Linked DNA regions of Homo sapiens: regions 2 and 3 are each linked to region 1. Evidence: fine-mapped expression QTL. A gene starts in region 1. Each other region holds a variant in brackets. All regions are shown on one strand. Distances are between the middles of the regions. Region 1 holds the start of XRN1 (5'-3' exoribonuclease 1). Region 2 has its middle 62 kb from the start of GK5. Region 3 overlaps XRN1 (5'-3' exoribonuclease 1).

The links. PIP is the estimated chance that this variant, and not a neighbour inherited with it, causes the effect.
Region 2: its variant is the best candidate, but not a certain one, in a credible set for the expression of XRN1 in blood mononuclear cells (TOPMed, PIP 0.56).
Region 3: its variant is the best candidate, but not a certain one, in a credible set for the expression of XRN1 in whole blood (TOPMed, PIP 0.78).

Annotation. Positions count from the first base shown.
Region 1 is chr3:142,441,497-142,452,001 of GRCh38, forward strand. XRN1 (5'-3' exoribonuclease 1) reads right to left here and starts at 6,541. Exons shown (of 41, transcript NM_001282857.2): 1 at 6,374-6,541. The coding sequence starts at 6,448. It overlaps ATR (ATR checkpoint kinase), which reads right to left. Exons shown (of 47, transcript NM_001184.4): 47 at 7,739-8,106. The coding sequence ends at 7,933. It also overlaps the pseudogene EIF2AK1P1. RefSeq lists a silencer at 2,585-2,791 and enhancers at 4,367-4,726, 6,259-6,538.
Region 2 is chr3:142,282,103-142,292,607 of GRCh38, forward strand. No RefSeq gene overlaps it. Among named protein-coding and RNA genes, the nearest start is that of GK5, 62 kb to the left of the region's middle. RefSeq lists an enhancer at 3,105-3,399. The variant C/A (reference allele first, on the strand shown) is at 5,508.
Region 3 is chr3:142,401,231-142,411,735 of GRCh38, forward strand. XRN1 (5'-3' exoribonuclease 1) reads right to left here. Exons shown (of 41, transcript NM_001282857.2): 16 at 3,677-3,846; 17 at 2,639-2,759; 18 at 2,444-2,542. It also overlaps the pseudogene RNU6-1294P. Among named protein-coding and RNA genes, the nearest start is that of XRN1, 42 kb to the right of the region's middle. The variant G/C (reference allele first, on the strand shown) is at 5,850.

The DNA of each region.
Region 1 (10,505 bases):
ACCGTGGCATACCTGAGTAAGAAAACTGATGTAGTGGCAAAGGGTTGGCTTCATTGTTTATAGGTAGTGGCTGCAGTTGCAGTCTTAGTATCTGAAGCAGTTAAAATAATACAGGGAAGAGATCTTACTGTGTGGACACCTCATGATGTGAATGGTATACTCACTGCTAAAGGAGACTTGTGGCTCTCAGACAACCATTTACTTAAATATCAGGCTCTATTACTTGAAGGGCCAGTGTTGCGACTGTGCACTTGTGCAACTCTTAACCCAGCCACATTTCTTCCAGACAATGAAGAAAAGATAGAACATAACTGTCAACAAGTAATTGCTCAAACCTAAGCCGCTCGAGGGGACCTTTCAGAGGTTCCCTTGACGGATCCTGACCTCAATTTGTATACTGAATTCGCATACAATTCGTATACAATTCATTCGTATTCATATACATACAATGAATTCGTATACAAAAAGTCCTTCATAGAAAAAGGACTTTGAAAAGCAGGGTATGCAGTGGTCAGTGATAATGGAATACTTGAAAATAATCCCCTCATTCCAGGAACTAGTGCTCAGCTGGCAAAACTAATAGCCCTCACTTGGGCACTAGAATTAGGAGAAGGAAAAAGGGTAAATATATATACAGACTCTAAATATGCTTACCTAGTCCTCCATGCCCATGCAGCAATATGGAGAGAAAGGGAATTCCTAACTTTGGAGGGAACACCTATCAAACATCAGGAAGCCATTAGGAAATTATTATTGGCTGTACAGAAACCTAAAGAGGTGGCAGTCTTACACTGCCGGGGTCATCAGAAAGGAACGGGAAATAGAAAGGAACCGCCAAGAGGATATTGAAGCCAAAAGAGCCGCAAGGCAGGACCCTCCATTAGAAATGCTTATAGAAGGACCCCTAGTATGGGGTAATCCCCTCCAGGAAACCAAGCCCCAGTACTCAGAAGAAGAAATAGAATGGGGAAGCTCACGAGGACATAGTTTCCTCCCCTCAGGATGGCTAGCCACCGAAGAAAGAAAAATACTTTTGCCTGCAGCTAACCAATGGAAATTACTTAAAACCCTTCACCAAACCTTTCACTTAGGCATTGATAGCACCCATCAGATGGCCAAATTATTATTTACTGGACCAGGCCTTTTCAAAACTATCAAGCAGATAGTTAGGGCCTGTAAAGTGTGCCAAAGAAATAATCTGCACTGCAGGCCATACATTTCAATCCCTGTATCTTTTTATTTTTATTTTTATTTTGAGATGGAATCTCGCTCTGTTGCCCAGGCTGGAGTGCAGTGGCGCGATCTCACCTCACTGCAAGCTCCGCCTCCTGGGTTCACGCCATTCTCCTGCCTCAGCCTCCTGAGTAGCTGGGACTACGGGCGCCCAACACGACGCCCGGCTAATTTTTTGTATTTTTAGTAGAGACGGGGTTTCACCGTGTTAGCCAGGATGGTCTCAATCTCCTGACCTCGTGATCCACCCGCCTCGGCCTCCCAAAGTGCTGGGATTACAGGCGTGAGCCACCGCGCCCGGCCCAATCCCTGTATCTTTAACCTCCTTGTTAAGTTTGTCTCTTCCAGAATCGAAGCTGTAAAACTACAAATCGTTCTTCAAATGGAGCCCCAGATGCAGTCCATGACTAAGATCTACCGCGGACCCCTGGACCGGCCTGTTAGCCCATGCGCTGATGTTAATGACATCAAAGGCACCCCTCCCGAGGAAATCTCAACTGCACCACCCCTACTACGTGCCAATTCAGCAGGAAGCAGTTAGAGCAGTCATCGGCCAACCTCCCCAACAGCACTTAGGTTTTCCTGCTGAGAGTGGGGACTGAGAGACAGGACTAGCTACATTTCCTAGGCCGACTAAGAATCCCTAAGCCTAGCTGGGAAGGTGACCGCATCCACCTTTAAACACGGGGCTTGCAACTTAGCTCACACCTGATCAATCAGAGAGCTCACTAAAATGCTAATTAGGCAAAACAGGAGGTAAAGAAATAGCCAATCATCTACTGCCTGACAGCACAGTGGGAGGGACAAGGATCGGGATGTAAACCCACGCATTCAAGCCGGCAACAGCAACCCCCTTCGGGTCCCCTCCTTTTGTATGGGAGCTCTGTTTTCACTCTATGTCACTCTATTAAATCTTGCAACTGCAAAAACAAACAAACAAACAAAAACAAACTAAAAATAGAGCTACCATATGATCCCAGCAACCCCACTGCTATCTGTGTTAATATAACCCAAAGAGAGGAAATCAGTATATCGCAGATATCTGCACTCCTTTGTTTGTTGCTGTACTGTTCACAATAGCCAAGATTTGGAAGCAACCTAAGCGTCCATCAACAAATGAATGGATAAAGAAAATGTGGTATATACACAATGGAGTACTATTCAGCCACAAGAAGGAATGAGATCCTGCCATCTGCAACCACATGGGTGGAAATGCAGTTCATTATGTCAAGTAAAATAAGTCCAGCACAGAAAGACAAACATTGCATGTTCTCACTTATTTATGGAATCTAAAAATCAAAACAATAGAACTCATGGACATAGAAAATAGAAAGATGGTTCCTAGAGGCTGGGAAGGGTAGTCGGGGAGTCAGGGGAGAGGTGGGAAAGGTTAATGGGTATAAAAGAAAAACTGAAAGAACGAATAAGACCTAGTCTGGGCACGGGGGCTCACGCCTGTAATCCCAGCACTTTGGGAGGCCGAGGCGGGCAGATCACTTGAGCCCAGTAGTTCAAGATCAGAGTGGGCAACATGGCAAAAACCCATCTCTATTTTTAAAAAGATTTAAATTAAAACAAACAGAACAAAAAAACACAGGCCAGGCACGGTGGCTCATGCCTATAATCCAAGGACTTTGGGAGGCTGAGGTGGGCGGATCACTTGAGGCCACCAGGAGTTGGAGAAGAGCCTGGCCAACACGGCAAAACTCCATGTCTACTAAGAACACAAAAATTAGCTAGGCGTAGTGGCACACGCCTAATCCCAGCTACTTGGGTGGCTAAGGCACAAGACTTGCTTGAACCGGGGAGGCAGGGGTTGCAGTGAGCCGAGATTGCGTCACTGTACTCCAGCCGGGGTGACAGAGCGCGACCTTGTATCCAAAATAAAAAATAAAAAAAAAGAATGAATAAGACCTACTATGTGATAGCACAACAGGGTGACGATAGGCAATAATTTAAAAACAACTAAAAGAGTGTAATTAGATTTTAACACAAAGGATAAATACTTGAGTGGATGGATACTCCATTCTCCATGATATGATTATTACACACTGCATGCCTGTACGAAAACATCTCATGAACCCCATAAGTATATACACTATGTTTCATAAAAAAAAATAATCATAATAATCCCAGGCTTCATTTCACTTTTTTAAAAAATACTGTTTTACAACATACTAATATACCATGTCTATTTTAATATGCATTTCTATATGCTATATGCTATAGCTAATAAATTAATTCACTCAAAAAATATTTACTGAGTACCCATTCTGTTATGCTGCTTTGGTTTTTTCTTTTTCAGGCACCTCTACTATTTGTCTTCTTTGCCTATCTTTCTTATCGTTACTTTTTCTTGAATCTTTTAAATCTATTTTATTTTTTAAAATTTCATCTTTCCACTGCCGATTGTTTTCTCAAATGGTATCATTTGCTCGTCTTGCTTCTATTTGAGGCTCAGCTCTGCATTTTTTTTTCATTTACTTCTAACTTTCTCTGTCATCTCATTCTCACATTTTCATAATTGATACACGTTGTTCTTTCATGTCTTACCTCATTTTCTTAATGCCTTTTAACTCATTGTGAAATAGATAATAGTTTTGGTTATAATTTTGGTCTATTTTGTGTGCATTTTTTTCATTGCAAGTTTTTATGTCTGGAGAGATACTCTGTCCCTTTTTCTCGTATAATAACTTTGTATGTAATTTGATCTCAATACCTTTCTGTAGCTCATTTTTATGTGAATTTAATTTTCTTGAACTTTTAGAATGAGTAGAGGTTCAGGGAATATAAGTTCACAAAGCTGTTTCTGGGTAGTGTTAAAAAATACAGTGGTTTGCTTTGTGGTTTGTTTTCTAAGATTTCTTGATTCTATGACTTTGCCTCACTTTTATATGGTCTATCTCCTTCTCTTCTTGTCTCTATTGTCCCTTTCATAAAATTTTATTCCACTTCCAGCATAACATTTCCGTAAGACTTTATTCCACTCCCTTTTCCTTAGGGCTCTGGTCTAGAATGGCACCTTGGCAAGTCAGTTTTGAGTGTTCACAGGAGGTAGACTACTCCTGCCTGTTTGGTCTTTCTTATGGTAGACCTTCACCCAGTCAATAATGGAGTGAATAAAACTCCTCTGTTTCAGCTACCGCTATCTAATTGGCCAGCACAGTCTTTTAGTGGATACCGCTGGCTATTCTGGAATTCTGTTCTAAGGTTCATCAGATGTTGCCCCATTGCTTCCTTCTCGCTTTTGCACAGATGGCAATATCAACGGTGTCTAGAGACTATTGATAGTTTGCCTCACCTAGTTATGTTTTGAGTTTCATGGGGATAGCATGTCACATGGTTTGTTGTAATTGTTTTATGGATTTTAAACTTTGGTTTCTAGTTTCTCTTTCTGTTTTTACAAGATGATTCAGAGAAACTGAAAACCTATGCTACTGAGGCCACACCACTGACTTCCCGTAACTTACTTCTTCTCCCTATCCTTCCCGCCCAGGACTAGCTTTTGAATGCCTGTGACTTATTTAGGCATTACCATCTTTAAGTTCTACTTAACAGAGAAGCTGATAACCTTTGGTCTCTTTTTAATCAAACATTTTTGAAAGGTATCACAACAATGAACCAAATTTTAAAATTTATTTACAGTGAAATTTAAAAATAATTCTCCTCCCAGTTTCTATATAAAGCTTTCACAAAACCTATCCTTAGTGTCCATGTCATAAAACTGCATTAAAGAGATTTTCATTCTTCAGTAACAAAATTCCTCAGGATGGAGAGAATCTAAGATATTTTCACCAAACCAAATTCTGTGCCACAGACTACAGAATAAAAATATTACTGAACAAATTATGTATTAAATCATCACGAATAACAATCGCATTATTTTTGCACTTTAGAGATAAAGTGACTGATATATAGCAGGTACTGACTGAAGGATGCAAGAAAAGCCAAAGTTGGTTGTCTCCATTTCTGCAATGTACTGGTTTCCTTTTTAGCCCTCCCCGGGGGAAAAAAATACCTCTCTAAACCTAACTCAATCTATGTTTCAAATAAATTCAAGATAAGCTAACCTTGGAAACTTTTTGTAGTCTATTTCTCATCTACCAAATCTGATTGGAATCCAGCAACAAAAACTCCTTTCCAGAAGTAAACTACCTTCATGTTCGTAAATGCCGATTAAACCATAATTTAATAGGCTATTTACAATACTACCCATCACAACTGATTCAATCAGCTACACAAATTTCAAGCTTTTTTTCTGTAAAGCATCAGAAAAGAGATCAAATTCATTAAATGTGACAAACACCAAAGTATCACCCAAAGTCTAGTTTACCTAATAGACGACTGCTTTCTCCTCTCTTTCCACAGTTCCAATATATAAACTACGTTTTCGGAATCTACACATTAACGTTGTCCTGGGGTCAGTACATGCCAAATATTATTAGTAGTATTAATGTTCTATCAATTCGTTTCCCAACCCCCTCTGTCACACAGTGAGGCCTCCAAATAAAAGGTCCTACGCCCCACTCCCCAGCTGGCCCAAGAGTTTTTTGTTTTGGCAACAGGGGATTGGTGCTGCTTTTGAAATAACAGAAAGTAACAAAAGGCATCACCAATATGACCATCAGCCACGTCGGAAAGTCTAGGCTCCGGGGGCCGGGTGGGCCGCGCTCTAGATCAGGGAAAGTAAACAAGGTGACTGCGTGCGGAAGCGGCTGTTATCGTCTGTAAGTGGGTCTGCCGCTCTGGGTGGGATGGGGGAACCTACGAGGACACCCACTCCAGCTTCGCAGCCTCTGTAAGGAAAAAGGCAACTTGCAGCTCCCCGGGAGGAAACCGGAGAACAGTAAAAGCGTTCTTTCCCAGGACTTCATTTCGGAGTCGCGGAAGGACCAGCAGAAGCAAGAGCTGTCAGAGAAGCCGTGAACCCAGCGGCTCTGTCCACACACAGGCAACCTGCGTCCTTAGCCCCTTTCGGCTCATCCGGGCGTCCTCAAACCTTCCGTCCCCCTCCCTAATGCCACTAATCGTCCAGACGACGAGGGGAAAGAGGTGGCTCGAAAGCCCCAGCTCTAAGGTGGAGAGGGCCGCGGAGCCCCGGGTCCTCGGCTTTCTGAGCCGTTGCCCCTCGCTCACCCACCTGATGCTCTTTCACCACTTCGCTGAGACAGGGATACCGCTCTGAGATCCATCTGTAAAACTTGGGGACTCCCATTTCGATCGTCAACACTAATCCCAGTCAGGGCCAAACCGAAACCAAACGCCCCGCCGGGGCTCCGCCGCAGCCTCCGGTCGTCGCTCCGCGGATGACAACACACCGCCCGGCCGACCATAGAGAGCGCCCGGCGGGCCTAGAGCGGCAGGATCCGAGGCCGTCCGAGGGGCGGGGCTTAGCCCTCCGGGCCTCGCGCGGCCGGGGCCGCGGTACTGTCCAGTGGCGGTCAGGGAATCTGCGGAGGTTTGCTGGTGTGTTGCAACTTAGGGGCGAAAATGCCCCATGATAGAGTTGTGCTTTCTAAGTGGATTTGGAAGTGGCATGAAAACCGTACGAAGGTGTGGGAAGGGTATCGAACACTGATTTTTGTTCCGCTTGTCTCCTAGGGTTGCTAATCTCAGTATTTTTCATTCAGATTTCGAAAGATCTGGTGATTTACTTGGCTTAGTTTGTTGTTTTGTCAATAATTTTTTTTCTCTGAGGAATTTAAACTTACGTTTCTTAATACATACGTTTAAAAACGTTCTTTTCCAAATTGTTCAAAAAAATTTCCCATGTACCCGCCCCCCGCAACTGTTAACATAAGACCTTGGATACGAAATCATTTAATGTTTAGTTTTGACATTCTTGCATCCGGGTTTATCATATTTTTCCCCATCACACTTTCAACCGCACAGCAAAGGAGAGTTCTATCAACTTAAGTGAAATTATCAGTTTTAAATGTAAGAGTTTTCCACTTATTTGAATGTATTAACCCGTTACTTTGTATTTAAGTCTTCTGGATGAAAACTTACAGAAAAACCTTAAACATTTAATACTTTTTGGATTTTAAGATCTCAGGAAATGTTAAGTATCGCTGTCTTTCATGACCACTGGATTCTGCATTCTGGGACTGCAGTATGGCAGCATCACACAAATTACAGAATGTTTATTTCGTTTTCACATTCACGCTTCTTGGCTTATATTTTTTCCCTATCACACTTTAAAACAAAGTTTTATTAAGTGAACTTAATGATATGCTATTTATATTTATATATCTCTCTTACTAGACTGTCACTTCCTGGAGGGCAGGAGAGGGTAGCTCTATGCACAAGTCTGGCACAACGCCTTGCCCACAGTATTTATTCCATATAATTTTGTTCTTCAAGTGAATCCTTACAATAGCTAGGACTTTTAAAAGGAAATCAATAGAAGTTGTAAAATGAAATTAGACTTGCTTGTTTCTTGCAAATATAGTTTTTGACCATAAGAACACATGATATTCTATTTCTCCAATTATAATGCACAGTATGTATTAAGAAAGCAGTTTATTTCTTAATAACTGAATGTATATTATTTTACATATAATTAATGATCAGAGAGAAATAACAGTTGCTGAGAACGTAAATTTATGTTGTACTTTAGAATTGAACAGATACAACCACAGATTCATACCAAATGCATTACTTTTAGATTATTAACATATTCTTTTACATAATTTCATTTCACATATATGGAGTCCAACCAAGATACATCTGGCATAGTAAGTTTTCATCAGTAGCTTCCTGTATAAGGTAATGCACATGTCCTTCAATAGATAACGGCAGTCCTGTCACTCTATTTCGAGTCTTGATTACACCTTGTAGTCGCTGCTCAATGTCAAGAACATGGGTCTTGGCCTAAAAAGAAGAAACATAAAACCAAAAACAGATGTTAATAATTTGGAATTACTACCTTTCTTTATATTTTGACATTTAATAAATGTTAATACCATTTTACTGACCAATACCCCTTTTGTAAGAGCAAATACAGGAAAAGAAGAAATTAAACAAATACAGTTAGCTTGTGATACTGATTTGGAGGCTCGCAAGATTGATTCAACATCAACTGCTTGGACATGTTTCTGGACTACGTGAAATACCAGGGAATTATTTACACATTACAATTCTAGAAAAATAATTTTTTAAATCTGCTTTGGAAGTGTTTAGGACTTAAACATTTCAATGAATATTCAAATAACAATGCTGTACTGCCTAATATTTACATTATGTTAGTACATGCAAATGGGTGTTCTAAGTGAGCTACTTGGAACTGTACAATTTCTTAAGCATATCTGAATGCAAAAGGAAGAATAACGTTATTAGAAGAATAATTCTCAGAGGTGGTGCTGGGTGGGCTGGTGGGCTGCGCTGCAGCCCACGAGCACAAAGAGGAGGGCCACGGGGTGGAGACTGTTGCTGTGCCATCTGCCATCGACTTTTCCGCCAAGAGCCTGGACTCCAAATATGACTTATGTTCCAGCAGAACTCCAGGTATTAAAATAACCCCTACAACAGCCAACTTTCCCTTTTGCAGTTGCAAACCAGCTGCCGCTTATTTCTTTGGTGAAGCACTTGAGCCATGTGCGTGAACCAAACCCAGTTCATTCAAGACAGTGTTTAAGTTACTTTGCCAGACCTTTATCAAAATGGGGCTGCTGTCTTCTTTCACTTGTGACAAGTTTAGCTCATTGAGACTACATCACCACAGAGCTATTACTCACTTAATGAGGTCCACTAAAGAGAGAGTTCATCAGGATCCTTGTGAGGCTATTTCTCATATCCAGAAAATCAGATCAAGGGAAGTACCCTTTGAAGCACAAACTTCACGTTACTTAAATGAATTTGAAGAACTTGCCATCTTAGGAAAAGGTGGATATGGAAGAGTATACAAGGTCAGGAATAAATTAGATGGTCAGTATTATGCAATTTAAAAAATCCTGATTAAGGGTGCAACAAAAACACATTACATGAAAGAACTACGGGGAATGAAGGTGCTGGCAGGTCTTCAGCACCCTAATATCATTCGTTATCACACTGCGTGGACAGAACATGTTCAAGTGGTCCAACCACAAGCAGACAGAGCTTCCGTTCAGTTGCCATTTCTGGAAGTGTTCTCCGACCAAGCAGACAGATACCAATACGGTGTTAAAAATGGTGAAAATAGCAGCTCACCCATTATCTTCGCGGAGCTCACCTCAGAAAAGAAAAACCCTTTGCAGAATCTGACACTCAAAATCAGAACAACAAGCTGTGAACTACACCATCAATTCCGTCTTAAGAGACACCAGTGAATATGAATCATCCCTGGAGCTCCAGGAAAATGGCCTGGCTGGTTTGTCTACCTGGTCAATTGTGAAACAGCCCCTGCTGCTCAGGTGTAATTCCCTCCTAGAGGAGAATTTCACATCCACTGAGGAATCTTCCAAAGAAAACTTCAACTTGTTGGGGATCGAGGTGCAGTACCACCTGATGCTGCACATCCAGATGCAGGTGTGCAAGCTCCAGCTGTGGGACTGGCTAGCTGAGAGAAACAAACAGGGCCAAGAGTGTGTGGGCAAGTTTGCCTGTCCTTATGGCCAGTGTTGCAACAAAAAATTTTCAAGATTTAGTGGAAGGTGTGTTTTACATACATAACATGGGTATTGTAAACAGAGATCTGAAGCCTAGAAATATTTTTCTTCATGGCCCTGATCAGCAAGTAAAAATAGGAGACTTTGGTCTGGCTTGCCCAGACATCTTACAAAAGAACACAGACTGGACCCATAGAAACAGAAAGAGAACACCAACACCTATATCCAGAGTGGGCACTTGTCTGTATGCTTCATCCCAGCAGTTGGAAGGATCTGAGTATGATGCCAAGGGTCTCACTCTGTTGCCCAGGCTGGAGTGCAGTGGTGTCATCATAGCTCACAGCAGCCTCCAACTCCTGGGGTCAAGTGATCCTCCCACCTCAGCCTCCCAAGTAGCTGGGACTACAGGAGTGTGCCACTGAGCCCAGCTAATTAAAAAAAAACAAAAACTATTTGTAGAGACCAGGGCTGGCTTTGTCCAGTTAGATATGTATATAGCTTGAGTGTGATCCTGCTAGAGCTCTTTCAGCTGTTTAGAACAGAAATGGAGCGAGCAGAAGTTTTAACAGGTTCAAGAACTGGTCAGATATTGGAATCCCTCAGTAAAAGGTATCCAGTACAAGCCAAGTATATCTATCACTTAACGAAAAGGAACATGTCCCAGAGACCATCTGCTCTTCAACTGCT
Region 2 (10,505 bases), 160 kb before region 1:
GCAGCACCTCTTGACAATCCTAATTGGAACTCCCAGACTTTTCTGTGGTAATTTTCCTTCTTTCGTTGTTTAAAATGGCTTCTATCTCTTCTTTTATAATGTTCTTCCAACCTGGGAAGAGCTAATTTCCTCAAACCTTAAAATGCTTGGCTTAGAGTTGAGCTAGGGGTAAAGGAACCCAGAAGCCTGACATGCTGAAAAAAGGGTAAAAGTTATGTGTGTGTTTTGTTTGTTTTGTTTTGTTTTTTACCAGTTGAGCTTTTGGCTTCTCTTTCCCTGAGTAAACTGGTAAAAGGGGAAATAAGGATTATTGTTTATATTCTCTATATAAAGTTTTAATTAGTGAAAAAGGATTTGTGCGGTTGGTCTTAAGCTGTAGCCAATCTGTTGTGTTTTGTGTGTCTTTCTGCATGGTTTTGTCAAAAGAAAGGGTACCTTAGGATGCAGGGCCAGGACCGCATAAGACTGCTGTTCAAGCCAGCCTAACAAAATGATCAGTAACAAACTTGGCTACAGGCCTCCATCTTGTTTCGTGTCCTTGGAAACATGACCTGTAACCACGTGGCAATACTTTTAGTCTCCATTTTACAATGGTGGCTGTCTTCTTGTGCTAAGTCAGTTCCTGGGTGGCGGCCACAAAATCAGATAAGCCAGTTTATCAATCTGGGTGGTGCCAGATGATCCATCAAGGCCAGGGTTTACAAAATATCTTAAGTGCTGATCTTGAGAGCAGCTTAGGGAGGGTCAAAATCTTGTAACCTCCAGCTGCATGACTTCTAGGCCATGGTTTCTAATCTTGTGGCTAGTTTCTTGTCTGGTCCCCAGGCAAGAGGGAAGTATACCTTAGGAAGGGGCTGTTATCATCTTTGTTTTAAACTATAAACTGCAAACCAGGGTTCTCCCAAAGTTGGTTCGGCCCATGCCGAGGGATGGGCAAGGACAGCTTGCAGGCTGGAGCAAGATGGAGTTACTTGGGTTGGATCTCTTTCACTGTCTCAGTCACAGTTTTGCAATGATGGTTTCAAAAGCTGCTTACCACCCCTTTGAAAATACCTCATACACTGGAGGTTAAGTTATAACCTAATTAAGGCTTGTTGGTTTCACCTGTGGGGTTACTTTTTGTAAAGTTCCAAAGCTGAAAATCTTAATTGTTTTGCATGGCTGAAGTCGAGTAACAAAAGATTTAAAAGGATTTTCTTAAATAGTGCTCAGCTTAATTAAAAATGGATAGCCAAGTTATAGGTATATTTAAAAGGCATTCACGTTTTTCTCTTCTTGGATCTTATTTTTCTGGAAAAAGGTTTTTTCTTCTCAGTCGACTGAATTATTTTTCTCCATTTTTTTGTCTTTCCACTCTTAATGCACACATGAGAGGCCCTAAGATAACTTCTGGTAGCCTGGGACTCCTTGGGAAAAACAGAGGAGGCACCATAGATTCCATTTTGGGGGAAAAACCCCCTATTTTCCTCATGTAACCCCAGGAATTGAAAGTGGATGGATCCCTCTCAAAATCAAAGGCTCTGTTCTGTTTTGCATTGTGTTATCTGATGGTTTTAAGTTTTGGGGGTATCAAAAGTTACCTTGCAGTATGAGAGAGCTTTGGTGTGTAATAACTAGGTAGGAAATATACTTTAAGGGATGGCTAATAGTGTTCATGGAGGGATACTTAACTCTTTGCACATTTGAATCAGAGAAGCATGCTCTTGTCCACCTGGAAGATATGGAAACATCCCCACTCCCCATTAAGAGATGAGACTCCATGGAGGATGGGCTAATTACAAAACAAGCCAATTGGCTTTGGGTTGCCTTGCAATGATATGCAAGGTAGAAGCACTGCACTGCCTCCTCCTGTAGCATCTCCCTCATTCTGGGGATCCAAGATCCAGTATAAAATGGCACCCTTAATTTTGGGGATCTGTCTTTGCCTTCAGCTGTGCCTGCTTATTAGGCCCTAAAAATGCATTCCTTCCTGTTCCTCCAAGGGCTTTACCCTGAAGCAGGTAATCCAATTAATAAACTTACAAATGAAAAATCTCAGAAGTGCTGAATCTTCTGTCTGTCTGTGTATATATGTGTTGTGTGTAATGTCTATAAAAAGAGCTCTAATTGATTGGCTTAAAGAAAAATGAGTGCTTAAATCAAGTATTTTTAAAGAAAAAATAAAAAGCTGTAATGCTTTTTAGTTCATATGACTTTAATCTTTAAGAAATAAAAATAGTCTTAAGAATTATTGGTAAAATACAAGGGTCATAAACATGTAAATAGGTGGTCTAAATCATGTAAGTCAGATACTAGGTTTGCTAAATGTTCCAAGGTTGTAAACTACCTGCTTTACAACTTGGTAAGGCCTGGGGACATACGAAATTAACCACACCCCTAAGTATGCTGGAAAAAGTCAGACTTTATCTATGCCTAATACATAATCAAAACAACCTACCAGGTTTCACAGTAAAGTTAAAAATTACCCAAAGTTACCACCATAATGATATAGGAGTTAAGAATGTTTCACGTGTCCGTGTGAAGAGACCACCAAACAGGCTTTGTGTGAGCAACAAGGCTGTTTATTTCACCTGGGTGCAGGCGGGCTGAGTCCAAAAAACGAGTCAGCAAGGGTGGTGGGATTATCATTAGTTCTTATAGGTTTTGGGATAGGCGGTGGAGTTAAGAGCGATGTTTTGGGGACAGGGGGTGGATCTCACAAAGTAACTTCTCAAGGGTGAGGAGAATTACAAAGAAAATTCTTAAGGGTGGGGGAGATTATAAACAACATTGATCAGTTAGTGTGGGGCAGAAACAAATCACAATGGTGGAATGTCATCAGTTAAGCTATTTTCACTTCTGTGGATCTTCAGTTGCTTCAGGCCATCTGGATGTATATGTGCAGGTCACTGGGGATATGATGGCTTAGCTTGGGCTCAGAGGCCTGACAAAGAAGAAATTACTTAGGCAGATAGTGAGGGTATGGAAGTGCTTGGTAAGGTTTTCCTTTTAATGAAAAGCAGCCCAAATCATTTTCTAACAAAGAGCAGCCTGTAAAGTTGGGCCTCAGACATAGACAAGCAACTGGGAGCTTGCAGGAATGAATGCAGGTAGGAAAGAACTAGCTGGGACTAGACATGTTCAAAATGGTGGCTCCATCTTCCCTTATCTGTCAGCCACTGTACAGTAAGGAGCAGACAAGATGGCACCGGCCCAGGGGAGAGTTCATTTGCATAATAAGATTAGGGTGGGATGAGGAGCCTTCCCTGAGAGCTATGTAAACGTCACACCTGATTGAACCAATCTGTGAGCCCTATGTAAATCAGACACTGCCTTCTCAAGCCTGACTATAAAATCCAGCACATTCATTGCTGGCCAGTTTTTTTTTTTTGCTCTCAGAAGCCCCCTCTCTCTCACTAGAAGAGTTGTTTTCCTTTCTCTTTCTTCTGCTTATGAAACCTCTGCTCCTAAACTCCTCATGTGTGTCTGTGTCTTAAATTTTCCTAGCATGAGATGATGAACACTGGGTATTTACCCCAGACAACATAGCCACTTCAATAACATGTAATTTAAACTACTAAAAATAAATTTATATGCAAGATGTGTAAAAACAGTAGAATGTATTTTCTAGTAAAAGATTATGAGAAGGCATGGAAATGTACATTTTTCCTAGTCATAAAAGATTGTCTTAAGTTAGATAAGAAAGCTGAAGGTTTAAGCAAGTTATGGAAAGGTTGTAAAAATTAATCTTGCAAAAATTCCATGTGTAAACATTAACTAAATTCAAAAGGGAATTATATGGTCATTTCATAAATTAAGCATTGAAATAAAGGTTGTCTTAAAACGCTAATCTGCCCTTTAGCAAAAGGGTTATAAAAGGTTTGTAAAGATTTCACCTCATGGTCAAATTGGTTAAGATGAAATGGAATTGTCTATGAGGTTTCATCAAAAAATTGGGGTTAACAATAAACTAATGCAAGGGTAAAATTTTGCTTTGAATAGGATTTTCATGTAATAGTAAAGGCTAATAAAAGGTTTTTGCCTTTTGAGTCATCATTTTGGAAAAATAAATAATTTATTGTAATCTGGAATTCTACTTCATAAAATCAAGTGTTTTAAACCTCTAATATTTAACAGCCTCCCCAAAATCAAACTTCAAATTTCAAAATTGCCTTTCCTGATGTCTAGCTTTCTGGATGGTTCAGAGGGCCCCTGAAGCATCCAGAGAGGTGGTGAACAGAATTATTTGATATGTTTAGTTAGATGGGATTGCCAAAATGATGTTCAATCTTTAAGTTATATTTTGGTGAATAATACTAATATATGTTCCAAAATTGGGGATTTCTAAAATTCTAATGTCTGAATATATGCTATCATCATAATTAAGGTTGTTATGTTAAGTCATTGTAAACCATAGAGATAACCAAACTTCTTTATCAGTTGCATTTTTAACTGTACCCTGGAAATTTTTTCACTTGCAGACAATTGTCTTGCTTTGTTCCTTCTGAAAAGATGATTTATAGTCAAGCTATAAGATGTTAACAGGTGCTCTCAAATGCAGGTTTCTAATAGCTTTGAAGATTATAACATTGGAATATAAAAAAAAGTACAGAACTCATGAAAAGCTAAAATGTTCACAAATATCAACAAAACCAAGAGTTAACCAAGTGAACTCAGAAAGCTAAAGCAACCTTTTCAACTTTTGCTTGGAATATTGCTGATCCTTGTTTTGTTTTTCAGAGTCAAGGAAACTTATTTTGAACTAGTTACAGCCTGTAATAATAATAATACCTCATGAGTAAGGTATACTCCTGTTCATAAAATTTGGAGCATGTTTATTTCTCTCTGTCTGGTTCCTCTGGAATTTGGAAACTATCTGTGAGTATTATTAACTTATGGCAACATGGTTGTTGGCATCAGTGCAATAAGAATCCATTTTTCTTTTGCAACAGGACACCATTGGAAAAAAAAGTGCTTATTTTACCAGTGCTTTGACTGGAAGCATGTGTTTCCCTTTAAGGAATCGAGCTTGACATGCAGAGCAAATAAAAGCCCCTTGGGGAAGACTGGCCTCATTCCTTGTCTACACAGTCCCCATACAGCGTTCCTGACCTGTTGTCAGTAAAGAATGTCACTTTCTAACAGGTCCAGGAGCTCCAAGTTTATCTTGAGAGGATCACCCAATTCACAGGCATTTGAGAATACAATCCCATGGCTGGGCTGGGCTTTAAAAATTCTTATTTCAGTTTCCCTGGGGAATAGAGTTCCATCAAACTCAACCCAAAAGGCCCATGTAGAAATAGTTATTCTTGCTGGACTTTATGCAAATAATCAGGTCAAGTATAAGACTAAAATTTATTCTATGAATAACATGGTCCTATCATAATTTGTTTTTACCAAAATGAGGACAACAAGGAGAAAAATTGTATTCCAAAACTTATACATTTGTCATTAAATTCTAGTCTCATTGTTTTTAAGTTTTTTTTGCTACATTTTAGACTAAACTTGCTTATTCCTGTGAATCAAAT[C/A]ATGATCTCCTGCAGCTCAGAAGAAACACAAAAGGATGGGTAATGTAAAAATCTGGATCAATATGCTAGTTCTGGGCAATTATCCTGAAAATCCTGCCAGGTAATGAAAGTTAGTAGGGTGTCCATAACCCAGAGGTTTCTTTGTTTGGGAAAATAAAGCCAAGGAACTTCATAAACCTCCAAAGGGAAATTGTGTATCTTGGAAAGTAAAATTTTAGATGGAAATAATCCACTATGCCACCCTTGCAGGAATTGCAATACTCACTCTACTATTTGCAGTAAAGCCATATATGATAGCACCTTCTAACTGAAATATTGGACAGAGAGTTTCCATTGTTGTAGCATTTTGCTTAATTATTATACTTATAGCAGGGATAATAGCTACCGATCAAGAAGTAAACATGAAGGTTTTACTATCACTGAGTCTGCCAAGATTTTTTACTGGCTTCGGTAATGTGTCACACCCTAGCTATGCAAAGAGGGTTATAAAGAAAATAAACTTTACATAAGAAGGGATCTTGTATATTAAATTCTTGTCCTAAAGAGAATTACTGGTTGTTTAAAAAGAGGGATGTTTAGGACAAGCCAGAAAGTCTAAGCATGTCATAAATGGTCTGTGAAAGTCATGAAGGGATCAATAATTGCAGGAAAGATTTCAGGTTAACACTAAAGTTATTCTAGTCACCCAAATCCAATGTCGCTTATCCTAAAAGAATGTTACTTTTATATTAATGTTTCAGCAGCATCTGGTGGAGGCAAACCAGTATCACAATCCATCAGAATAGGTGACTGCAATCAACCTCCAATGCTGCTGCACATAGAAACACATATGGACATGCCTTTCTTCTGTGGAACCTTAGACCAACCCCAGGAAGAGCCCTAGCTGCTGTTCCCCACATGACACCACTTTTCAGCAGGAAGTAGCCAGAAAGAGTTGTCGTCCAACACATCCTAACAGCAGTTAGGCTTACCACTCCTGAGGGGCAGAATGATACAGGAGTTAAGAACAAATTACTTACGCAGATATTGTGGGCACGGGAGTCCTTGGTAAGGTTTTCATTTTAATAAAAAGCAGCCCCAAAATCATTTTCTTTTCTAAAAAATAACAGTCTGTAAAATTGAGTTGCAGACATGAACAAGCAAGCTGGAAGCTTGCACAAGTGAATGCCAGCAGTTGTGCCAATAGAAAAATACTACATGGGACTAGGGATGTTCAAAATGGTGGCTTCATCTTCCCTTCTCTTTGTCAGCCACATGTACAGTAAGGAGCAGACAAGATGGTGCTGGCCAAGTGGAAAGCCCTTTTGCATAATAAGATTAGGGTGGGGTGACAAGCCTTCCTTGAGTGCTACGTAAATGTCAAACCTGATTGAGCCAGTCCATGGGCCCTACATAAATCAGACACTGCTTCCTCAAGCCTGCCTATAAAATCTGCTGCACTCCACTGCTTTTCTCTTTTTCGGACACCTCTCTCTTGCAAGGAGCTGCTCTCCTCTCTCCTTTCTTCTGCCTATTAAACTTTCCATTCCTTAATCCACCCACGTCTGTGCCCTTAATTTTCTTAGCATGAGATGACGAACCCTGGATATTTACCCTAGACAGTGATGCTGCTTCACCAGGAGATGTAGCCATGTGTTACTTGTATAATTAAAAATTAATTCAAAAAGGAAAAGAAAGAACATGTGTTTTGGGATTCAACAGGCCTATTTTGAATCTCAGTTCAGCAACTATCTTTGGGCAAGTTAACAGTTTTGTGTCTTAGTGTTCTCATTTGTGAAATGAGATATATTTATTTTATTTTAATTTTTTGAGACAGGGTCTCATTTTGTTACTCAAGCTGAGTGCTGTGGTGTGATCATGGCTCACTGAAGCCTTGACTCCTTGGGCTCGAGCAATTCTCTGCCTTAGCCTCCTGAGTAGCTGGGACTACAAGTGTGCACCACCATGGCCGGCTCATTTTTTTTATTTGTAGAGATGGGGGTCTCACTATGTTGGCCAGGCTGGTCTCAAATTCCTGGACTCAAGTGATCCACCCACCTTGGCCTTCCAAAATGCTAGAATTACAGGTGTGAGCCACTCACTGTACCCAGCCTGTACCTTTTTTTTTAGACACGGAATCTCACTCTGTTGCCCAGGCTGGAGTGCAGAGGCGCGATCTCAGCTCACTGCAAGCTCCGCCTCCCAGGTTCATGCCATTTTCCTGCCTCAGCCTCCCGAGTAGCTGGGACTAGAGGTGCCCATCACCACACCCAGGTAATTTTTGTATTTTTAGTAGAGACGGGGTTTCACCATGTTAGCCAGGATGGTCTCGATCTCCTGACCTCGTGATCCACCCGCCTCGGCCTCCCAAAGTGCTGGGATTACAGGCATGAGCCACCATGCCCAGCCAGCCCATATCTTATATTATTATAATATTATTAGTGTTTGGAGGATTGAAAGTATTATATAAATTGATTGGTACCTACCTAGTAGATATCCCATAAGTAGTAGTAGTTGTTATTACTGAGCCTTGAGAACAAAACTTAGTTTTGGGTTCATGGAGACATAATTAATGATATGACAATGCTTGTGAACAATAGAAGTTATAAAGCCCTGGTGGAGGAGCCAAGATGGCCGAATAGGAACAGCTCCGGTCTACAACTCCCAGCGTGAGCGACGCAGAAGACAGGTGATTTCTGCATTTCCATCTGAGGTACCGGGTTTATCTCACTAGGGAGTGCCAGACAGTGGGCGCAGGTCAGTGGGCGGGCACACCGTGCGTGAGCCGAAGCAGGGTGAGGCATTGTCTCACTCAGGAAGCACAAGGGGTCAGGGAGTTCCCTTTCCTAGTCAAAGTAAGTGGTGAAAGATGGCACCTGGAAAATCGGGTCACTCCCACCCGAATACTGCGCTTTTCCGATGGGCTTAAAAAACGGCTCACCAGGAGATTATATCCCGCACATGGCTTGGAGGGTCCTACGCCCACGGAGTCTCGCTGATTGCTAGCACAGCAGTCTGAGATCAAACTGCCAGGTGGCAGCGAGGCTGGGGGAGGGGCGCCCGCCATTGCCTAGGCTTGCTTAGGTAAATAAAGCAGCCGGGAAGCTCCAACTGTGTGGAGCCCTCCACAGCTCAAGGAGGCCTGCCTGCCTCTGTAGGCTCCACCTCTGGGGGCAGGGCACAGACAAACAAAAAGCAGTAACCTCTGTAGACTTAAATGTCCCTGTCTGACAGCTTTGAAGAGAGCAGTGGTTCTCCCAGCACACAGCTGGAGATCTGAGAATGGGCAGACTGCCTCCTCAAGTGGGTCCCTGACTCCTGACCCCCAAGCAGCCTAACTGGGAGGCACCCCACAGCAGGGGCAGACTGACACCACACACGGCCAAGTACTCCAACAGACCTGCAGCTGAAGGTCCTGTCTGTTAGAAGGAAAACTAACAAACAGAAAGGACATCCACACCAAAAACCCATATGTACATCACCATCATCAAAGACCAAAAGTAGATAAAACCACAAAGATGGGGAAAAAACAGAGCAGAAAAATTGGAAACTCTAAAAAGCAGAGCACCTCTCCTCCTCCAAAGGAACGCAGTTCCTCACCAGCAACGGAACAAAGCTGGATGGAGAATGACTTTGACGAGCTGAGAGAAGAAGGCTTCAGATGATCAAATTACTCTGAGCTATGGGAGGAAATTCAAACCAAAGGCAAAGAAGTTGAAAACTTAGAAAAAAATTTAGAAGAATGTATAACTAGAATAACCAATACAGAGAAGTGCTTAAAGGAGCTGATGGAGCTGAAAACCACGGCTTGAGAACTACGTGAAGAATGCAGAAGCCTCAGGAGCCGATGCGATCAACTGGAAGAAAGGGTATCAGCGATGGAAGATGAAATGAATGAAATGAAGCGAGAAGGGAAGTTTAGAGAAAAAAGAATAAAAAGAAATGAACAAAGCCTCCAAGAAATATGGGACTATGTGAAAAGACCAAATCTACGTCTGATTGGTGTACCTGAAAGTGACAGGGAGAATGGAACCAAGTTGGAAAACACTCTGCAGGATATTATCCAGGAGAACTTCCCCAATCTAGCAAGGCAGGCCAACATTCAGATTCAGGAAATACAGAGAACGCCACAAAGATACTCCTCGAGAAGAGCAACTCCAAGACACATAATTGTCAGATTCACCAAAGTTGAAATGAAGGAAAAAATGTTAAGGGCAGCCAGAGAGAAAGGTTGGGTTACCCTCAAAGGGAAGCCCATCAGACTAACAGCAGAGCTCTCGGCAGAAACTCTACAAGCCAGAAGAGAGTGGGGGCCAATATTCAACATTCTTAAAGAAAAGAATTTTCAACCCAGAATTTCATATCCAGCCAAACTAAGCTTCATAAGTGAAGGAGAAATAAAATACTTTACAGACAAGCAAATGCTGAGAGATTTTGTCACCACCAGGCCTGTCCTAAAAGAGCTCCTGAAGGAAGCGCTAAACATGGAAAGGAACGACCGGCACCAGCCACTGCAAAATCATGCCAAAATGTAAAGACCCTCAAGACTAGGAAGAAACTGCATCAACTAACGAGCAAAATAACCAGCTAACATCATAATGACAGGATCAAATTCACACATAACAATATTAAATTTAAATGTAAATGGACTAAATGCTCCAATTAAAAGACACAGACTGGCAAATTGGATAAAGAGTCAAGACCCATCAGTGTGCTATATTCAGGAAACCCATCTCACATACAGAGACACACATAGGCTCAAAATAAAAGGATGGAGGAAGATCTACCAAGCAAATGGAAAACAAAAAAAGGCAGGGGTTGCAATCCTAGTCTCTGATAAAACAGACTTTAAACCAACAAAGATCAAAAGAGACAAAGAAGGCCATTACATAATGGTAAAGGGATCAATTCAACAAGAAGAGCTAACTATCCTAAATATATATGCACCCAATACAGGAGCACCCAGATTCACAAAGCAAGTCCTGAGTGACCTACAAAGAGACTTAGACTCCCACACAT
Region 3 (10,505 bases), 40 kb before region 1:
AGCTATAGAATCTTTGGCATATCATTTAATCCTACTGAATCTCAGTTTTCTTTTATGAGGAAAAGGAATAACATCTACCTTACAATGTTGAGGATAAAAGAAAATCATATACATGAAAGCTTTCATAAACCATAAAATGCTCTACAAATATTCTGTAGGAAATAATATCTTAAGTAAAAAATTCTAGTTTTAAGAAACTGTAGGCTGGGCGCTGTGGCTCACGCCTGTAATCCCAGCACTTTGGGAGGCCGAGGCAGGTGGATCACGAAGTCAGAAGTTCAAGACCAGCCTGGCCAAGATGGTGAAACCCGGTCTCTACTAAAAATACAAAAAAAAAATTGGCCAAGCGTGGTGACAGGAGCCTGTAATTCCAGCCACTCGGGAGGCTGAGGCAGGAGAATCGCTCCTGGGCAGCAGAGGATGCAGTGACCCAAGATAGCGCCACTGCACTCCAGCCTGGGTGACAGAGTGAGACTCTGTCAAACAAACAAACAAACACATAACTTCTTGACCAAGGGCTTAATACTTGCTACCTTTACTTCCCGTCTACACAATCTTAGCCTAGTTCTCAGAAATTGAAATTCTGCTTCCACCAATCTACCGAAATGGAATTTTCAAAGATCAACATTGATGTTCTAAAAGACAAATTCACAGATCTTATTTGAGTTTTTATTATTCTTCAGATTTATGCAGCTTACATCCTCTGCTCCATGCTTCTGTGGTACTATTTAACTTTGGAATCACTCTTCCTAACCTCTCTGTTTCTACTGGCTCCCTCTCCACCATTTATAACTGTGGGCATTTCTTTATGCTGAGACCATGAACACTCAATGCACCTTGTCTTCAAGGAAATGAACCTCAAAGTCATCAATTCTCTGTTGACAACTTGAATATCCTTCTCTCTCTCCAAGCTCTAGCTCCAGGTATTTAACTGTATATAAATAGCCTTTCTTTTTTTTTTCCTTTTTTGAGATGGAGTTTCGCTCTTGTCACCCAGGCTGGAGTGCAGTGGCGCGATTTTGGCTCACTGCCACGTCCACCTCCTGGGTTCAAGCAATTCTCCTGCCTCAGCCTCCCGAGTAGCTGGGATTACAGGCACCCACCACCAAGTTTGGCTAATTTTTGTATTTTCAGTAGAGATGGGGTTTCACCATGTTGGCCAGACTTGTCTTGAACTCCTGACCTCAGATGATATGCCCGCCTCAGCCTCCAAAAGTGCTGGGATTACAGACGTAAGCCACCATGCCCAGCCATAAACAGACTTTCTAAACAGGTTTTTCATCTGAATCAGAGAACACAAAATACGTCTACTTTCTCTGTTCTCTCAAAGATGGTACATAACTCCTACTGTTCTAAATGCACAGAAGATAAGTTAATTTATTGCTTACAATGAATGACTTAGGGCATTAGGGCTTATACATCTTGTGGAATACTGGTTAAGAAAGGCTGGCAAGGCAGTTCCGGTTAAACATCCTAGTGTTACCTTAAAATTCCATCATTATTTATCATTTCATCCCCCTAAACTATCAACTCCCCTGTTTTAACTTTTCTAGTCCAGTAAATTACAATTTTTTTTTTAGTTAATTAGCCTGGATATCTCAGTCACATTTACTATTAATAGTTTCTCTTTTCACCCCCTGTATTTGACCAAATAATGAAACCTATCAGTTTTATTTCATCTTGTTCATCTAGATCTATTGCTACTTCTGAAGTTTATGTCTCTATCACCTGATGCTACACTCGCAAGCTTTCCCGCTTTCTTTGATTTCTCTTTTGTGCAATTTAGTTTATTATACTGCCACCAAATTAATCTTTATGAAAATATCAATTCCAAAATAATGGTCATGGGAAAATAAGTCCAAACTCAGCCTGGTACTCAAGGTTCGACATAATCTGGCCTCAATCTGATTTTTCAAACTTATCTTCTACTATTTCCAAACACAAATCCTCTGCTTCAATAAGGCTTATTTATTCCTTCTCCTCAAATATATCACATTTATTCTAAAGAAAAGACTAAGTGTTAAGAAATAGTTCAGATACACAAAAAGGTTAAAAACAATAATATATGACATTTTTGACTGAAATGACTGGCTCATGATATTTCTTTTGACTAGAATGCCTTTCCCCTCCTTTTCTGTGTCCTAACCTGTTTTTCAGTCCTCAGCTCAAGCCTATTCTCATTTACAAGTCTATACTTAACTTTTGGTTTACATAGCTCTTCTCCTTTTTAAAATTTCTAGAAAATTTGTATATTCATTGTGTCACAGTGATACAGGTTCTTGAACTATTATCTAATTTGTATGAATGTTTCTTTGCTTCATCCTTATTTAGGCTCCAAATTTCTAGAGTTACAACATATAATACCTCCCTGGTAAACATCCCAGCAGCTACAGTTTAATACATTATAGGCATCTAATAAATGAATGATAAATAAAATACTTACAAGTTCATCTGATTCTGCATCCACTAAGATTTCCAACATCATGTTTTCTCCACGACTGCTTTGCTGGAATACTTGAACACCACTTTTCTTCAAAAAAAACTTTAAAAGAATTCAAATAATTTAATTTTAATTCTTTCTCCATAATCACTTCACACTTAATAAAGTGAAAAAATTCTGAACTAAATAGCCACTGACTTTGTGTCTGATGTGTTTCAGAGTAGGAAATCCACAGAAATATAATGCTTTCTGGTCAATTCTGGTTATTTTGTTTTTGTTTATGTCTACACGCCAAGCATCTAAGGATATTATTTTATACCTAGAAAATAAATCAAGGCATTTAATTTAAAATTAATACATTACAAACAATTACAGTTTTTTAACTTTCCCTTGTATATTTCGTAAGAGTCATCCTTGCTTTTAAAGAAGAGAATGACAATTAGTTCCAGACAAAGAAAACACAAGCAGATAACCAGCCTCTCTATTGTTACTGGTCTAGACACAATCATGCCTGTAGATTACTAAGTTGAGATTTTCCCCATTAATCTAAAACAAAACTATATATATAAATTTTAAGATAAAATATGACACATAACACAAATCTCTATATCCTCCATGTTCCAAAACCCAGGATGGAAAATAAACATTTTATAATGCCTGTTTTATCTTTCTCTTTCCTTTAACAAAAGGAAAAGTTGTAACTGAGAGATGTTTACTTTATTTGCAACTCAATTGCCATCTGGGTAGATTATTTGCAGGGAAGGTGAGAGAAGAGAAAAAAAAGGAAGATATTTTCATGAAGAGAAAAAAATGGAGCTCTTTATTTCTTATTTCCTTCTTTCTAGTTGGGTGGCTGGGGGGTATAATCAATATCACAGCGTATCAAATAATGCTGGGAGCAGAAACACTGACAATGGAAACAAAAATTCACATATCCATTCGAGGGAGACAAAATGCAGGGATATACATTAGAGAGAAAAAATTCAAACACTTTTAATAGAAGAAGGAAAGAGAAACAAAGAATCTGACCAAAGTAGAGAATTATAGACACAAGTGTGAAAGATCCTTAGATCCTCTGCAAGTTAGATGTAACTCATTGATTATCAATTGACTATAACTGTCATAAACTATTTGCTAATTCTCCAAACAGATATTCAAAGCTCCCCCTTCACCACTTCTCGCACCCTTGTGTTAGGAGCGCTCTTTTGTTGTTGAAAAATTACCAAGTAACATTACCTTGTACAACATCGTTCTATGGCAGGGAACTTTTCTGGCCATGGAGAAGGATAGATAAACTCTGTGTCTCTATCATACCAGCACATTAGGCACTCACTATGTTGGTTTCTTTTCCTCTCTTCCTTTTTGAGGGAGTGGTTACATGTCTCCATGGCTTCCAATAATCGCTTCTGAATATAAGGATTGAAGAGAAGGGTTACAAGCATAAAAATTCCATAATCTCAACAAACAGAATAAGTCTTTTTCCTCCATATACAGAATAACCATTTGTGCTCTTGAAAAACAAAAAACCAAAATCTTAACTAATGAAACTCTTCCATTTTATTGCATGAAAAATATGCTATTTATTGTTTCAAAGGGCCCTAGAATACTGCTACCACTGCAAAGTTCTCTGAAGCTATTACCCCAACAGTTGCCACTAAAGTGCAAATAAGCAAGGCAGCAGAAAATCAAATTTTAAGTGTGAATCTATTATAATACTATATCATAATTCACAGAGCATTAATCTCTTACTTTACAAATTCTGTAGTAGTATAGTGATGTCCATCTTTCCAAATTAACTTATACATTTAAAGTAATTCCAGTCAGGACATCAATGATTTAAAATATCTTTTTTTTAAAAAAAGAATAAGATACCAGTGTTAATATGGAAGAATAAATGTATGGACAGTAAAAAGTAACCAGGGACTTGTCTTACCAGATTCTATCACTTTTGATAAAGCTACTGTAATCAAAACACTAGTACTGACACTACAAGAGACCCACAGACCAGAAGAACAGAATAGAGTTCAATAATAGACCCAAATCTATGCCAAAACAGTCCTTTAGGTATTTAAATAATGACAATGTCCTAACTAGCTATCCAGCTGAAAAAAAAGCACATACACTTCTGAACTTCCTACCATATATAAAAACAAGTATCACAATAACAAAATAACAAATGTATCAGAAGAAAATCTAGGTGGTATTGATAATTTAGTGTGATAAAGTTTTATTTAAGGAAGACAGAAAAAAAACGAACAGCCTTAAGGGGAAAGACATTTTTTAAGTAAAAGATAATGTATATGACAGAAGATGCCATATACAAATCAAGAGACAGATGTGATACTGGGGAAAACTATTTCTAATATATAAAGTAGCTAAAAATCAAAAGAAAAAAAGAAAGAGAAATGGGGAGAGAATATAAACAAGCAAATTACAAAAGAGAAAATGGAAAAGGTAAACATACATAAAAGTATTTTCAATAAGACATATGGACCAATGGAACAAAATAGAAAGCCCAGAAATAAATCCATAATTTATAGCCATCTGATTTTTGACAAGGTTGCCAAGAACACACAACAGGGCAAGGATTGCCTCTTCAATAAATGGTGTTGGGACAACTGAATATCCATATGCAGAAGAATAAAACTGGACTTTTATCTTACCATAAACAAAATCAACTCAAAATGGATTAAAAACCTAAACATTAAGACCTTAAACTATAAAACTACTAGAATAAAACACAGGACAAAAGCTTCTTGACACTGCTCTTGGCAATAATTTTTTGGATATGACTGCTGACATGGCTGAATTAATAAAGTCATATTTGGGAGAAAGTAGATGGCAAAAAGGCATAAACATTTTTGTTTTTGTTTTGAGACAGGGATTTGCTCTGACACCCATGCTGGAGCGCAGTGAGGCAATCATGGCTCACTGCAGCCTCAACCTCCTGGGCTCAAGTGATCCTCTCACTTCAGTCTCCCAGGTAGCTGGGAATACAGGTATACACCACAACATCCAGTTCATTTTTTTTTTTTTTGGTAGAGGTTGGGTCTTGCTGTGTTGCCCAGGGTGGGCTTGAACTCCTGGGCTCAGGCAATCCTCCCAAAGTGTTGAGATTACAGGTGTGAGCCATAAACATTATTTTTGATGAGAATTTCAGCTGGAGGATGAGCACAACAGTTGTTAAGATATAACAAAATCTTGCAGTCATCATCCAGTCAGCTTCCCTGCAGTAAGCACAAGCTGCTGGTACAAAATGTTTGTGAAACCAATCTGAAAAGATGTCCCTGGTGATCCATGCCTTTTTATTAGCATAATAATGGATTGGTATGAAATTCACTCCTTGAAAACAGTGAGAACGCAAGCTTTTGCTTATAACAGCAAGTTTACACTTATGCATGCCTGCTGC[G/C]TAAGTATATCTCAGCACAGTTATTTGGTCTTTGGCATCCTTAATTCTTGGAAGGGCTGTTTCATCAGCTGCAGTCAGTGTCTTTCTGGGGCAATAATGCCCGAACAGTGATGTTTCATCAGCATTACAGACTTGTTCCAACATCACTAGCAAAGACCCTGGCAAACGTGTCATTGAATTTCTCTAGCTTCATGATAAGCAGGTGCTTTATCATCCCAAACATTTAAAAATTCAATGCTGTGACTTTTAAAATTTATTTATTTATTTATTTGATGGAGTATCACTCTGTCACCACACTGGAGTGCAGTGGCACAATCTCGGCTCACTGCAACCTCCACCTCCTGGGTTCAAGCAATTCCCATGCCTCAGCCTCCTGAGTAGCTGGGACTACAGGCATGAACCACCAACCTGGCTAATTTTTGTATTTTTAGTAGGGTCAGGGTTTCACCATGTTGGCCAGGCTGGTCTTGAACTCCTGACCTCAAGTGATCTACCCAACTTGGCCTCCCAAAGTGCTGGGATTACAGGCATGAGCCACTGTGCCCGGCCTACTTTTTTGTTTTTATCATTACTATTTTTTAGCATGGAATGCTTCATGAATTTGTATATCATGCTTGCGCAAGGGCCATGCTAATCTTCTTTGTATCATTCCAGTTTTTTTTTTAAGTATATGTACTGCTGAAGAGAGCACTGTCTTTTTTTAAACTTTTGCAACCAGTCTGTTAAATGTTCACAGTTCTCTTCAATTTCCAGTTCACTGTGATAGATCTGTTTGTTTCATTATCAGCCTGCCATTAAATGGCATGTATTCACAGCAATGCTGACAAATGCAGTACTTCAATACATGATTGATATCTTCATTTGTAGCTTTATGCAGTATTCTCTTTTTCATTAACTTCTGCTCATCACTTCCAGCACAGAATGTCAACAGCTTACCCTTCTGTTTCTTCAGGTCATATATGGACATTCTAATAGCATACTCTTCTAAAAGACAGTTCACACACCGCTGTCTAGTTTCTCCAACAACTTGACTTTCTATGCTACAGGTAAACATAAATGCTTCCTATTTTTCTTGACACCAACACCCATAGGGGTAGCTGCAGTCCTTTTTGACACTGTCAACACTATCTTCACACCAGACTAAAGAATAAGCGAAGTAATACAGTGAGTAATGCACATAGGCCTGGGGCCCATTTGGGGCATTGTGGGGAACCTGCCATTGGCGCATCTGGCCTATACATGTGCCATTTTATTACCCTTTGTGGGGGTGCTTGGGTGGGGGAATCTGGGTGTGTGCAGAAAAGGTATATTGCAGCTGAAAAGGGCTGGGAGGGTCTTCTATCCCTTGCGATGCAAATAAGCTGTGTTGTGCACCTGCATTTTGACTGCAACCCATCCCATGACACCAGGTGCAGATTTTCTATTTGCGGCATCAGATTGATGCTCAAAGTTTCTAATTTTGGAGCATTTCAAATTTCTGATTTTCAGATTAGGGATGCTTAATCTGTACCACAATTTACTTATCTATTGTCCTGCTGACTGGTATTGGGCGGTTTCCAGTTTAGTTATTATGAATAGTCTTGTACAAAACATTTTTTAAACATACTTTCCCCTCCTCTTGGTAAATATCTAAGAATGGAATTGCTGGGTCCTAGGGTTAGGTGTATAATTTACTTTATAAGAAACTGCCAGATAGATATGAAAAGTGCTTTTATCCATCTTATACTCCCATTAGCAGTGTATAAAAATTCCAATTGCTCCACATTCTTGCCAATATTGGGTATTGCCTTTTAAGTTTTTTCCATTCAACTGGGATTATGGTATAGTGGTATCTTATCATGCTTTTAATTTACATTTACCTGATGCCTAATGATGTTGAGCACTTTTCCATTGTTTATTATTTGTATATCTTGCCTTGTGAAAATGGCCCTTCAAAAATATTTTGCCATTTAAAAAATTGGGTTGTGTCTTTAACTTGAGTTGGAGGAGCTGGTTATATACTCTGGATACCAGTCTCATGCATGTGTATGTTCTGCATATATTTTTTTTCTCCTACACTGTGGCTTATCTACTCTTTTTTAAATAGCATCTTTTGATAAATGGAAATTTTTTTGATTTTGGTGAAATCTATTTTCTCAATTCTTTCCCTTTATGGTTAGTGATTTCAGAATCTTGAAATTTTCTCCTAAGTTTGCTTCAAGAAGTTTTATGGTTTTAGCTTTTATTAATACATTTAGATCTATGACATATTTTGAATTAAGTTTTGTGTATGGTGTGAGGTATGGGTCAAGATTCACTTTTATTCACAAATATAGCCAGTTGTTCTAGCACCAACTTTTGAAAAGCACTTTCTTTACTCACTGAATGCTTTGGTGCCTTAATTGAAGATGAATTAACTGCATAAACATACATTTGGGTGGACTATTTCTGTTCCAATTTATCTATTTGCTTATGGCTATACCAATAACAGACTGTCTTGATTAATGTGGCTTCATGGTTAGTCTGGAAATCAGGTCATGTAAGTCCTCCAACACTGTTCTTTATATGGATTGTTTTGGTTTTCTCCTTTGCAATCTTATAAAAACTTTAGAATCATATTTTCAATTATATAAAAACCTGCTAGGATTTTCACTGGGATTGAATTTAAAGATCAAATTGAGGAGGACGTACACCTTAACAATATTAAGTCTTCATATCCATGAACATGATATAATCCCTTCATTTACTTAGGTTTTCCATCTCTTTCAAGGTAGAGGGCTTCCACATATGTTGTTAAGTTTATAGCTGTGTATTTTATATTTTTAAATGCTATTTTAAGCAGAATCTTTAAGCTTCTTATTTTAAAAGTTTTGTATTTTCAAATGGTTTGTTGCTAGTATATGGAAATACAATTAGTTTTTGTACAGATCTTATACTCTGTAACCTTGCTAAAGTTACTTATCAGTTAAAGTTTCTCTTTTGAAGATTTCTTAGAATTTTTACATAGATAATAATGCCACTTGCCACTAAAAACAATTTTACTTATTTTCTTCATCTTAACACACTGGACCTCCAGTAAAACGTTAGAAAGAAGTGGTTAGAATGGACATCTTGTCCTATTCTTGACTTTACAGGAAATTGGTCCTTCTTTTACTATTAAGTATGTTGTTTGCAGTAAGATTTTTTATATGCCTTTATCATAAGGTTGAGGATGTTTCCTGTTATCCTTGTTTGTTGAACATTTCTATTAAAACTGGATGTTTGTGAAAAAAATATTCTTGGTCAGATAGTGGAAGGTGGAAAAAAAACTGGATGTTGAATATTGATAATGTGGTAAATTACATTGCAAACTAACTTTGTATTTCTAAAATAAATCCCATTTGGTCATGAGTATTATCCTTCTTATACGCTGTCAGATTCTATCTCATGTTTTTTTTTTTTTTTTTTTTTTTTTGAGATGGAGTCTGGCTCTGTTGCCAGGCTGGAGTGCAGTGGCTGGATCTCTGCTCACTGCAACCTCTGCCTCTGAGGGTTCAAGCGATTCTCCTGCCTCAGCCTCCTGAGAAGCTGGGACTACAGGTGCCCACCACCACGCCCTGCTAATTTTTGGTATTTTTAGTGGAGACGAGATTTAATCTTGTTAGCCAGGACAGTCTTGATCTCCTGACCTCATGATCTACCCACCTCAGCCTCCCAAAGTGCTGGGATTACAGGCATGAGCCACCGTGCCCGGCCTCATGTTATTTCCTTAGGAGTTTTTGCATCTACTTTTAGGAGGAGTATCAGTCAGTAATTTTCATTTCTTTTAATGCCATGTCAAATTTGGGTCTCTGGAATATGCTAGTCTAATAAAATGTTGGGAAGCAATTTCCTTTCTTCTGTTTTCTGAAAGTTTGTGTAAGATTGGCATTATTTCTTAAATGTTTGCTAGAATTCACAAGTGAAGACATCTGGGCCTAGAATACACAAAAGACTATTCAGATTTTTATATTTTTTTCTGTGAGTTTTGATAAGTTGTGATGAAATATGTTCACTTCATCTAGGTTGTTGAATTTGTTGACATAAAGTTTGACCATAACATTCCTTAACTAACCTTTTACTATATGAAGGAACTATAAGATAGCTCCTCTTCATTCCCAATATTGGTAATTTATTTCTGCCTTCCCCCCTTTTATTTAACTTTCTTGATTAGTCTAGGTAGGATTTACTGACTTTATTAATCTTTTCAAAGAACCAACTTTTGATGTCATTAATTATTCTCCATTGTTTGTTCATTTTCTGTAGATTTCTGCTTCTTTTTATTTCCTTCATTCTGCTTGAGTTTAATTTGCTCTTCTTTTTCTATCTTCTTAAGTTAGAAGCTTAGGTAATTTATTTTAAACCTTTTTCTTGTTTAGCGTCTAGAACCTTAAATTTCCTTTTAAGCCCTGCTTTAGTCGTATCATACTGACCATGGATCCCTTTTTTTTCTTTCCTGAGGGAAAAAAAGCAATCCTACCGTCTTGGCCTCCCAAAGTGTTGGGATTACAGCATGTGTGCCACCATGCTCAGCTCCCATTATGATGTATTGTATTTTAATTATCGTTCAGATCAAAATATTTTCTAATTTTTCTTTTAATTTCTTCTTTCATCATAGGCTATTTAGAAGTGTGCTATTTAGTTTCAAAATGTATGGGG